Regions from separate parts of the Homo sapiens genome. Here region 1 is reported to be linked to region 2. The links are microRNA targets in miRTarBase. Many come from high-throughput screens and were not tested one by one. Region 2 holds a microRNA gene; the other region holds the end of a gene's coding sequence.

What was found. Region 2 holds the annotated microRNA hsa-miR-136-5p (ACUCCAUUUGUUUUGAUGAUGGA, at 1,864-1,886, shown strand). A microRNA usually pairs through its seed, bases 2 to 8, with sites in the 3' UTR of a target mRNA and lowers its output. Matches are read on the target gene's strand: a 7mer-m8 pairs with bases 2 to 8, a 7mer-A1 pairs with bases 2 to 7 and ends in A, and an 8mer does both.
Region 1: the mRNA of PAQR8 is a reported target of hsa-miR-136-5p. Seed matches in the 3' UTR shown: 7mer-m8 at 3,870-3,876.

What each region holds. Positions count from the first base shown.
Region 1 is chr6:52,403,840-52,409,220 of GRCh38, forward strand. PAQR8 (progestin and adipoQ receptor family member 8) reads left to right here. Exons shown (of 2, transcript NM_133367.5): 2 at 1-3,938. The coding sequence ends at 439. Among named protein-coding and RNA genes, the nearest start is that of EFHC1, 14 kb to the right of the region's middle.
Region 2 is chr14:100,882,853-100,888,233 of GRCh38, forward strand. It overlaps MIR136 (microRNA 136), which reads left to right and starts at 1,850; the gene lies at 1,850-1,931. RTL1 (retrotransposon Gag like 1) reads right to left here. Exons shown (of 4, transcript NM_001134888.3): 4 at 1-2,022. The coding sequence starts at 1,936. It overlaps MIR127 (microRNA 127), which reads left to right and starts at 127; the gene lies at 127-223. MIR432 (microRNA 432) reads left to right here and starts at 1,631; the gene lies at 1,631-1,724. RefSeq lists a silencer at 2,840-3,134.

The sequences.
Region 1 (5,381 bases), not on the chromosome of region 2:
GAAGATCTGTCAAGTGGTGCCAGCAGGTCTGGCTTTTATCCTAGACATCAGCCCTGTGGCACACCGTGTGGCGCTCTGTCACCTGGCTGGCTGCCAGGAGCAAGCAGCCTGGTACCACACCCTCCAGATCCTCTTCTTCCTGGTTAGCGCTTATTTCTTCTCCTGCCCCGTGCCTGAGAAGTACTTCCCGGGTTCCTGTGACATCGTGGGCCATGGGCATCAGATCTTCCATGCATTTCTGTCCATCTGTACGCTCTCCCAGCTGGAGGCCATCCTCCTGGACTACCAGGGGCGGCAGGAGATCTTCCTGCAGCGCCATGGACCCCTATCTGTCCACATGGCCTGCCTCTCCTTCTTCTTCCTGGCTGCCTGCAGTGCTGCCACCGCAGCCCTTCTGAGGCACAAAGTCAAGGCCAGACTGACCAAGAAAGATTCCTGAGGCTGGCAAGTGGGGCAACGTGTGGAGGAAGCCCCTCATAATTTGGAGAAAACTTGATACAATAGAAGCTGACTTTTAAGGCATTGGCTTTTAAATTAATACATATATCCAAGGATATGTTATAGCTGCAGTGTTTGAAAGCCAAAGGATTTAAGAGTTTTGTTGTTGTTAATAAAAGGAATACTCCTTTTCCTTTTGGATCATAGCTTAACAAGGCACAGGAAGGGAAGGGATCTTGACTAAGATTCATGAGACATTGAATTAAGGAGAATCATCTTCATGCCTGAAAATTTAGCAAAATTCCGACTATGGCCTCCAGGGGCAATTCCTAAAAGCTGAATGGATAATAAAATTGGACTGGAAAGTAAGTAGGTGGCTGGTCCTCACCCTGTTGGAATGGCTATCCTACTATGCTGTTCTTTGGTAATGGAATAAATTGACCCAAGGACCGAATTTCATTTGGATTTCAAATTGTCCAGAGTGGAAAAGCCTTCAAGATGACATGATGAATTACTCAGTTCATCTGATTTCTGGTCCCTCCTTTCTCGACAACTATAATACTAACCCTTTTCTCAGGATAACTGTCTACACCTGGCAGTTTTCTCTGACGTGCTGTTCACTCACATCCCTACCTTGCATGGTAATATAAAGGACTAGGAAGCAGTCATACTTCCAGGAAATGCTTGGATTCATGTGGACATTCAGGAAGCTTATTCTCATATAATACTAATCTAAACAGTACTAGAAATTACAGTGCCAAGAGCCACCAGGAGGCCCAGCCAATAAGCATAGATACTATATGGTATCATGGGACCCATCTATTTTTTACCAGTGGACTACAGGATTACTTGAGAGTTATCAGGGCTGCCTAACAGACCAGGAGATCTGGGGGTTGCACCAGGGAATCGCCATATTTGACCAGCATGTTTTAAAAGCTCTTGGTAGGATTAGTTGGTTCTAAGGATCCCTCTAGGGACCTCATTATTTCAAGAGGAACCCAAAGTCCAGCCTCCTACATAGATGCTGCCCCACGAAGGACCCACAAAACTAACCTAGTTCAGGGTTCTCAGGCAGGCAGTTCTGCTTCAGCTTAGAGCAGAACCCATAAAATACTCAAGTACTGGGATAGGCAAGCATGTGTGTTTACTGTGGATTGGTCCCTGAAGGCTCCTTTGGGTGAGAACATGTGAACCAGGCACCCTGGTTTGTTTGGAGCATTGCTGCCCAGAAGCTTCTATGGGATAGGTGGTGCTTGGGATTGATGTGTTGTGGCCATGCAGCCCTCCCTGAGGATTGACTTCTGCACTAATCCAGTGAAGGAGGCTGTGTCAAAAGAAGGGCTCAGAAGCCCTCTTTTCAGAGGCAATGATTCCTGTCAGTATGAGGTCCCTTAGTTACTAAAAAGGGACATGATTTAACTCCAGTTTGATGAACCTCCTCCGAGTTTACTTTATTGTCTTCAAATCTTTTGTTTTCTTCCTTTTTGTGAGATTTGTGGGTTTTGTGCCTTATAAATGGAAATGTATGAACACAATATATGCTCATGTAGAATTTTCTGTTCTGGGTTATTGGGATAAGAAAAAATATATATTGCTCTTCAACTAGTGAATGAAAGAAACTTCAGAAAGCTAGAATTGCTTATCAATCAAAAGACTTTCTCAATCTATTTTGGCCACAAACAAACATATTCAACTGAAGCTTTCCAATAATCTTTATATCAAGAAAGCATGCGTCTTGTCAGCTACATTGTTTTCTTAGATGGATTTCTCCTGTTAATCCTCAAATATCTGAACTTCTGTGTTACCCAAGTGTCTTATACAAGCTTCTGGTGTCTAGGACAAATTTATGGCAAATAAAATTAGCAAAACTGAACTGGGTTGAACTGAACAAGAGGATGGGGGAATTGTGCAAATACGTTGTTAGTAGAAGGTCAATTTAAAATAGGGACTAGAAATTATTTGAAGTTTTCTTTATTACGGATTCAAAGACTTATTTTGAAAGTTGGAAGGAGAAGGGAGGGAAGAGAGCAGAAGGGAAGAAGGTGTAAGTCAAGCTCTTGAATATAACTGGTGGTATTGTGGGCAGAGATCTTTAGTTCAAATCCACGTATTTTTTAAAAGAGAGAACCGGAGGTAGAGCAATGATCAGATGGGTGCACAGACCAGTGCCAATCTGAACATTGTTAATGGCCTGTGACATGATGAGCACAGGAACAGGCATGAAGATATTGCCATACAATTTTAATTTATACAAGTATTGGCCCCTCAAGTGGTTGGAAATTTTTTTTTTAATCTCTTTTTCTGAGACAGGGTCTTACTCTGTCGCCCAGGCTGGAGTGCAGTGATGCAATCACGGCTCACTGCAGCCTCGACCTCCCCAGCTCAAGCAATCCTCCCACCTCAGCCTCCTAAGTACCTGGTACTACAGGCGCGTGCCACCACACCTGGCTAATTTTTGCATTTTTTGTAGAGACAGGGTTTTGCCACGTTGCTTAGGCTGGTCTTGAACTCCTGAACTCAAGTGATCCGCCCACCTCAGCCTCCCAAAGTGTTGGGATTACAGACATTAGCCATCACGCCTGCCCTAGAAACAGTTTTTTAATAGGAGATATTTGAGAGGCATTGAGGTAGGAGACTCTATGACATGCCCTCAGAATATCAGAATCTTCTTAGAAATAAACTAGGAAATGCAGATGTTTTTAACTACTCAGACTTTTGAGGAATTAATCCTTTTAAAACATTTTTGTTAAAGTTAGTGTATCAGTAAGAAACAGACCTAGTTTAAAAGGAATAATCAACAATTTTATAAAGGAGATGGCTTATTCAACCATAGCCCCTCCAACATATCTACTGGAAATTCTGCTGGTTAACTTTATCTCTCTCTCTCTTAATTTAGACTTTCAACCTATGAAAATGTAAATACCTTTGAAAAAACTAAACTATCAGTCATTTACATCCTCTCATGAATGAAATGCAGTGTAGGGAGAGGAGATGGCAGGACACAGCAAACAGGACACATTTGCCTGCTTCTCTCTTGCCTAATTCTTCCTGACCTGTATTTACTGATGCTTAATAATACTTGTAAGACTCTAGGGGTTCATTTCCCATTTCAGCGGAAAGTACTTCACTCAACAACAATATTCTCAAGAGTCTTCTACTGGAAGCTAGAAAGAAATAGGAATTTAAGTCCATAGAATGAAGGTAGTTATTCCTGCCTGTGTTGCCCACCTGTTCACAAAAAGTACCTTTATGCTTGAAAACATTAGGTTCTTTGGTTACTGCACTGTAGTTTCAAATGGATCCTCCAGATGGCATTCATGTCTTACTCAGAAAGGGCACTGCCATTGTCCCCAAGGCTTCTGTCTACTAATTCTATTGGTCTTGTGTTTTGCTTGCTTGGCAAAAAAAAAAAAAAAAAAAAAAAAAAAAAAAATGGAGCTATTTTCTGTCTATATAAATCTACTTATATGAATAACCATTAAAGTGATTTTGTATATGCATTGTTGTAGTGTCAGCAGTTTAAAGAAACAGCTACTTTGTTTCTTTGACAAGGTCTTAACAAGGACTACCCTGAAGAGGCCCCCTCTGAAAGGTTTTATTTATACAAACATTGTCAGGAAAAGGAGGTCAGGACACTATCTCTACCAAGAAGCAGGAAAGTATAAAAACTTTTAAAAAATCTCCATGCCTTATCCCCCATACACATATCCCCCATACACACACCCTAATACCTACTTGTGAGTAGAACAAATTGCTTCCCCACAAAATGCTATGAAGTTGATTTCTCTGAAGATTTCAATGTAATTAAATAAATATTCCTAGTTTCATAGATGATAGTGTAAAAGATTTCAACATTTTTAATTCATTGGCTACAATTTTATAAATGTAAAAATTATGAATTATACTATGATTTAACTATAGCAGGTACTACAATGTACGTGTTGTGAAATGTGGCATCTATTAACCAACTAATTATGTAGCCTTCAAAGTTAGATTAAAAGAGCTGTGTAAAAGGTGATTCTCTAGGCACTGCTGAAGCTGCAACTGCAGCTTCAGGCTATAGTACTATCATAATCACTAAGAAAACAGCATTTCTATGGCTAGAGGCTCCACTGGTCGAATTATGGTTGTCACTCTTGCCCAAACCCTTTTTTTTTCACCAGCAGGGGCCCCAGGCAGTTTGAAAATCCTTCTGTTGTTACTGTTACTAGTTTAACCACTCTTCAGTTATTAATTTAGCAAGAATTTATTGAGCACCTATTGGTGAAAGGTACCACCTTGGCTCTGGAGACACCACAGTGTGGAAAAACACACTCTGTGGGCAGAGAGTCTGCCGTCTGCTAAATGAGGACCAGTATCTTTTCCTTGGGCCATGAGGGTCCCTCTCCCCGGATCGTGGTTCCAATCACAGCCTGAGGGCCAGGAGGCTGGGACCTGGTTTGGGCCAGAACTTCTTCATAAGGATTAAGCCCTCTCTCCCCTTTACCTCCAGAGGTTGGAAACATCTTCCCCTGTAGCAAGGCAGTCACCTTAAAGCTGCCTCTACTTCCCGTTACTCCTGCTACTTCTCCGACCCTTCTCACTACCCTCTAGTTGTTTTAACTCAGTCATGGGGATCCTTGACACATCCAGACAGAGAGAGAGAGAAGGCCTAAATTTCCACAAGCAGTAGCGACTTCCCAGGTACATAAAGTCCCATCCTTCAAGGAAGAGGATGTGTGGTTCCAACCTGAATACAGGTTCCTAACTTGGTAAGTTGAAAACAGCATGCTGCACTCTGGCTACCTCCTTAAAACAATAACCATATCCTTTGTGGAATTATTATAGAAGTAATTTAACATGGAAGGAAAATCATTGCATTAAAAAGATAATTCATTTAAATATTAACTTTGGGAGCATATCTATCTATGGTAAGGGCTTTTCTTACATAACAGGATTCTCAC
Region 2 (5,381 bases):
AGTCCTGTCTGTTGGTCAGCATGTCCTGCAGGTCCCAGTATTCCTCCTGTAGCCTGGCTCTTTCTTGCATCCTGGCACCCACAGGTTCCCAAGGCGCGGTGGAGGGACACTCGTAAAAGGTCTCGCTGTGATCACTGTCTCCAGCCTGCTGAAGCTCAGAGGGCTCTGATTCAGAAAGATCATCGGATCCGTCTGAGCTTGGCTGGTCGGAAGTCTCATCATCTGCTTCCTTCGGGTTAAACACGTCGGCCAGGTCTGAGTATGGGTGTGGCAGTCCGGGTAGCAGGCTCATGCCGTGCCTCTCTAGGGCAATGCATGGCGGGGGCGGGCGGAAGCAGTTCTTCAGGCAGTAGGGAGAGTGGAAGGTGCAGCGGCCTTTGATCCAGTCGACTTCGGGGGCGTGGACTCGGAGCCAGCGGATGCCTAGGACCACAGAGAAGTTCGGTGAAGGTACGATGTCAAATTCGATGGACTCCTGGTGGTTCTGGTGGATACACACCAGGGGCTCCGTGTAGAGCCAGACAGGCTCGTTGCCAATCAGCGAGCCGTCCACGGATTGGACCGGCTGTGGGTACGGCTTCTCGTAGAGCTCGACGTAGTGCTCTTGGGCGAACTTCTCATCCATGAAGTTGCCGTCAGCTCCCGAATCCACCAGGGCCTGGACCGCGACGCTGTGGTAGGGGTTCACTCTCACCATGAGCAGCAGGAAGAGGTGGGCGCGATTGATGTCCGGATGGACTTCGCTGGGCAACCAGCTGCTGACCATCCACCTCTCTGGAGCAGGTGAGTCGATCCAGGTCAGGTTCCGGGGGCGGGCCTCGGGGGGCAGCCTGAGCATAGCTCTTCTCTCTGCCAGCTTCTCTTCTATTTGCAGGATGAGCACAATCAGACTGTCTAGGGAATCCGGCTGAGGGACCCGGAATAGATAGTGCCTGATCTCCTCGTTGAGCCCCTGGCACAAGTGGGCCTGCAGGACTTCATCTGGCCAGCCCAAGATGGGTACCAGGCTCTGGAACTCATCGATGTACTCAGTGGCAGAGCGGCCGCCCTGCCTGATGGTGAACATGGCCTCTTCTGCCACACGCAGTGCCTGGCGGTACTCAAACACTTCGGACATGGCCTCCAGGAAGGCTGGGAAGTCTCCGATCAGGGGGCTGTTTTCCTGCAGTAGAGCTTTGGCCCATTCTAATGCCAAGCCGGACAGGTGATTGATGACATAGCCAACTCTCAGACGGTCGTTATAGAACATTCTTGGGTAGCTCTGTAAGGTCAGTTGGCAGAGTACGATGAACTCGTGGAATTCTCTGCGATCGCCAGAGAAGTGCTTTGGGGCGGGCAGTTGGCCTGCATTGATCCCTTTGATCAAGATCTCTTCTGCTACTCTCTGTTGCTCTTTGAGGTCTTGCATTCGGAAGTACAGCGAGATGATGGACCTCACCATGGCCATAAGTTCTGCGGTTGAGTGCTCGGTCTGGTTTTGCTCTTGAGGAGTCTCCTCCCTTCCCGATTCCTTCAGGTCAGTGTGAGCCTCTTGTTCTTCTCGGGCTCCCGATGGGTTGACTGATGCTTCTTTCATCCTATCAGATGCTCCACTGAGTGGATCCCCCCTTGCCTGGTGTGAACCGTTGCATGACTCCTCCAGGTCTTGGAGTAGGTCATTGGGTGGATCCTCTATTTCCTTACGTGGGCCACTGGATGGCTCCTCCATGTCTTGGAGTAGATCAGTGGGCAGCTCTTCCATTTCCTGGAGTGGGCCACTGGGGGGCTCCTTCTTTTCCTGGGCTGGGCCGCTGGCTGGCCCTGCCTCTCCCCGCACTCCACTGCCCGACGTCGCCTCGGTGGTGTTGGATGAGCCCTCGGAGGACTCCATTTGTTTTGATGATGGATTCTTATGCTCCATCATCGTCTCAAATGAGTCTTCAGAGGGTTCTATCATTTCGTCGGATGGAAAGGAGTGTATTCTGAAGATTGGTAAGGTTGTGATGGCGTCCAGTCAGTAGCTGGGACCGTGGAGATCAGAACCTGGTGGTGGAAGGGGAGTGTGGGGAGTAAAGGCAGTAGTTTAGGATCTTGTGAAGTGGCAGTATCAGGGTCTCAAGGACAAATCAGATGCCCAACTAATCAGAGCAGAGAGAAATGGGGGAAAGCCTTCTTGTATCGAGCCAGCCTCTTTGGCTGGTCACTTGGGGTGCCCCCAGGGAGGGAAGATCTGTCAACCCCTGACCTGCCTCCCAGGCTTATTCAGTCTGCCTGTCCTGTCCTTTTCCTCCATAGATGTGAGAAATTCACAGCCCATAAATTCTGTGGCTGGGAGCAGCCACCGTGGCAGGCGGGTACCTGGCAGGGTGCACAGGCTGCTCCATTCCCCCCTGGCACATGCACCTGGTCAATCCTCTTTTCCTGCTTTGGTCACCTGAGAATCACAGAGGTCACATCTCAGCACCATCCAAAGCCACCCCTGGCAGGCTCAGGGCTCTGGAGCAAGCCCAGCCACCTTGGTTGTGGAGCGGGAATCTCTAGCAAAGATGCCTACTGTTTCACCAGTGCAGTGGAAGAGGAGAAAATGGGCACTTGGCCACTGTCCCGTCAGTTGGGTCAGCAGCCCAAAATAGTTCTTATTTCCTTCCCCATGTTCAAAATAGAAATTTCAGGGGGTGTGTACAGGTCTGGGTTTTTTTTTTTTTTTTCCATAAATTTTATAACATACCTACTATGTGCTGGATAACTGCATATTTGTTACTTGATTCTAACTCAGACTTTTGGCCAATTTCTCTTTCTCGATTTGGTCTCCTTCCAATGCTATGTTCTCCCGACCTCTGAGCTGTTGAGGAGATCTTCAAATAATCTCCTTCTCTTCCTACAATCTCCACTCTCCCAGGACTGCCCTCTTTGTGAGGCTTCTGGAACTTCACACATCTGGCCTCAATTTCACCAGTGCAAGCATATCTGCACGCCTCTCCAATCTTATCCTCCCAGGTCCCCTTCTTAACGCCAGTGGGTCTGGTCTCCTCTTTCTAGCAAATATCTTTTTCTCTCTGTTGCTGGTTGAGCCCTCCCAACAGACATGTATCTGGCAGAGTTGGGACATTGAGTGTGGGGGTTGGGGGGAACATGTGACATCTTTGGAATCTGACGGTCCCAGAGTGGATTTTTGGAAATCTAGTGTTGGGTGGTTTTAGTGGGCTGAGACAGAATTGAAAGGGAATGTCTTGGTTGGGGTTATTTGCACATTTCTTCTCTGCTGGGGCAGAGCAAATTAAGCTTTGATTATCTGATAGATTAACTGTAAAGCTACTGCTCTTTATAAATTTAACACCTTTTGTTACTTCTGAGTTTTCTTCTAAGCCACTGGACCCATCCGTAAAAAAAAAAAAAAAAACTGCGTTCCCCCTTACGTGAAACTCATTGGCTAAAATCCAAGCTTTCCAACAGGATACAAAATTCAGATCTGCTGTTTCTCAAAATTAAGTACACCCTTGTTAGCATGACACTTAAATTTGATCATGCAGTCTCTCTGATTAAAGCCTTCCACTGTTTATTTACTGTCTGCAATATTAAATCCAAACCTTCTAGCGTAAACATATCTGACATGTAAACTCACCAAAACTATTCTCTGGTTAAAATGTAAGGGCCTTAATATAATATAAAATTCTTATTTTGTCATTCCTCAAGGTAGAGATCACATTTTTTTAAAGCACAGTATACAAATCAGCATGGTATAGGAATTATAAGAATCATCATCATCATCATCATGATGTACATAGCACATTGCAGAAATTAACTCATTTCCTCTCCATAAAAGTCCTCTGAGATATGCATTATTACTGTAAAATTCCAAACCTCTAATATAAAATTCTAATTGAAATACAAATAAATAATTCTAATTGAAATACAAAAACTAAGTAATTCATCTGCAGACTTATCTATCAGGAATAAAAATCTCAGCATGTCTCTCACTTAAAACTCTTTATTGGTGAAAATTTAAATTTCTTAGCAAGACGATTTAAAAACTAGATTATGCCCCCTCTTAATATAAAGTCTACACTGCTTAACATATTTACAAATTCGACCATGTGAATGATTAAATCCTTCAATGTTCCTGCCTTCAGCTCAAAATCTAATATCCTCGGCATGTTAGAAAAATCTTAATACTTCTTAACATCAAAGTTTAAACTGTTAGCAAGATGAATAAAGGTCATCTCATAATTTCTCTATTTAACACATATAAAAATTCATTTTTATTGCCTGTAAAGTTTCAACCACTTAGCATAAAATGAAAATTTTCACCGTGTAATTTACTTGCCAACTGATTAATACGAACCCCCAAATCTCATCAGGTCACTCCTAAAACCCTTTATTGGCTTAATTCCAAACCTCTTCGCATGATATAAAATTCTGACCATGTCATTCCTCAAAATAAAAAGGTCACTCTCCCTTGCAAGATACACGAATTTGCTCTTATAACTTCTGCTTAAAGCTTTATTCTATCTCTTAATTACCTATGAGATAAGGTCTAATTATTTTTAGCATAGAACAATACATTTTACTATAAAATTTCTCTGACTACTCTACCCAAGACAAAATTTCTGCCATGTTACTGCCTTAAAAATCTCTTAATGAGCCAGGCACGGTGACTCACAGCTGTAATCCCAGCACTTTGGGAGGCCAAGGCAGGTGGAACACTTGAGGTCAAGGGTTCTAGGTCAGCCTGGCCAACATGGTGAAATCCTGTTTCTACTAAAAATACAAAAATTAGCCGGGAGTAGTGGCTCATGCCCGTAATCCTAGCTACTTCTCCTAGGCTGAGGCGGGAGAATCGCTTGAACCTTGGAGGTTGCAGTGAGCCGAGATTGCGCCGCTGCACTCCAGCTTGGGCAACAGAGGGAGATTCCCTCTCAAAAAAAAAACAAGACTCTTAATGGCTGAAGTCCAAATTCCTTAGCATGGCATAAAAATGTAATTCTGTCATCCCTCAAAATAGTGTCCAAACTTCTTAGCATGCTATGTAAATTTAATCATATAACTTCTTTTTATAAAAACATGCTTTGTCTATAAATGACCCGTCTCCTCAGCATGGAGCCCAGCCTGGGTGCCCTTGTGCCCAGGGGATACCTCTGCTCACGAGTGGTCTGATGCTTATTCATTATCTGGTTCAGCAAATCCAGATACCTTAACTTAAAATATGTTTACAATCCAGTTTCTCTGGAGACAAAACCCTCATCAATTTACTTCTTAAAACGCTTTACTGGCTGACATCCGAACGCCTCTGCATGAGATTTCAACAATGAGCTCAATGAGCTCATCCCCCACCCCTTCCAAACACAGCACTTGAATGCCTTCAACTCTTTTGTAAAATCACATCTCCTTAGCATGTGAGCAAA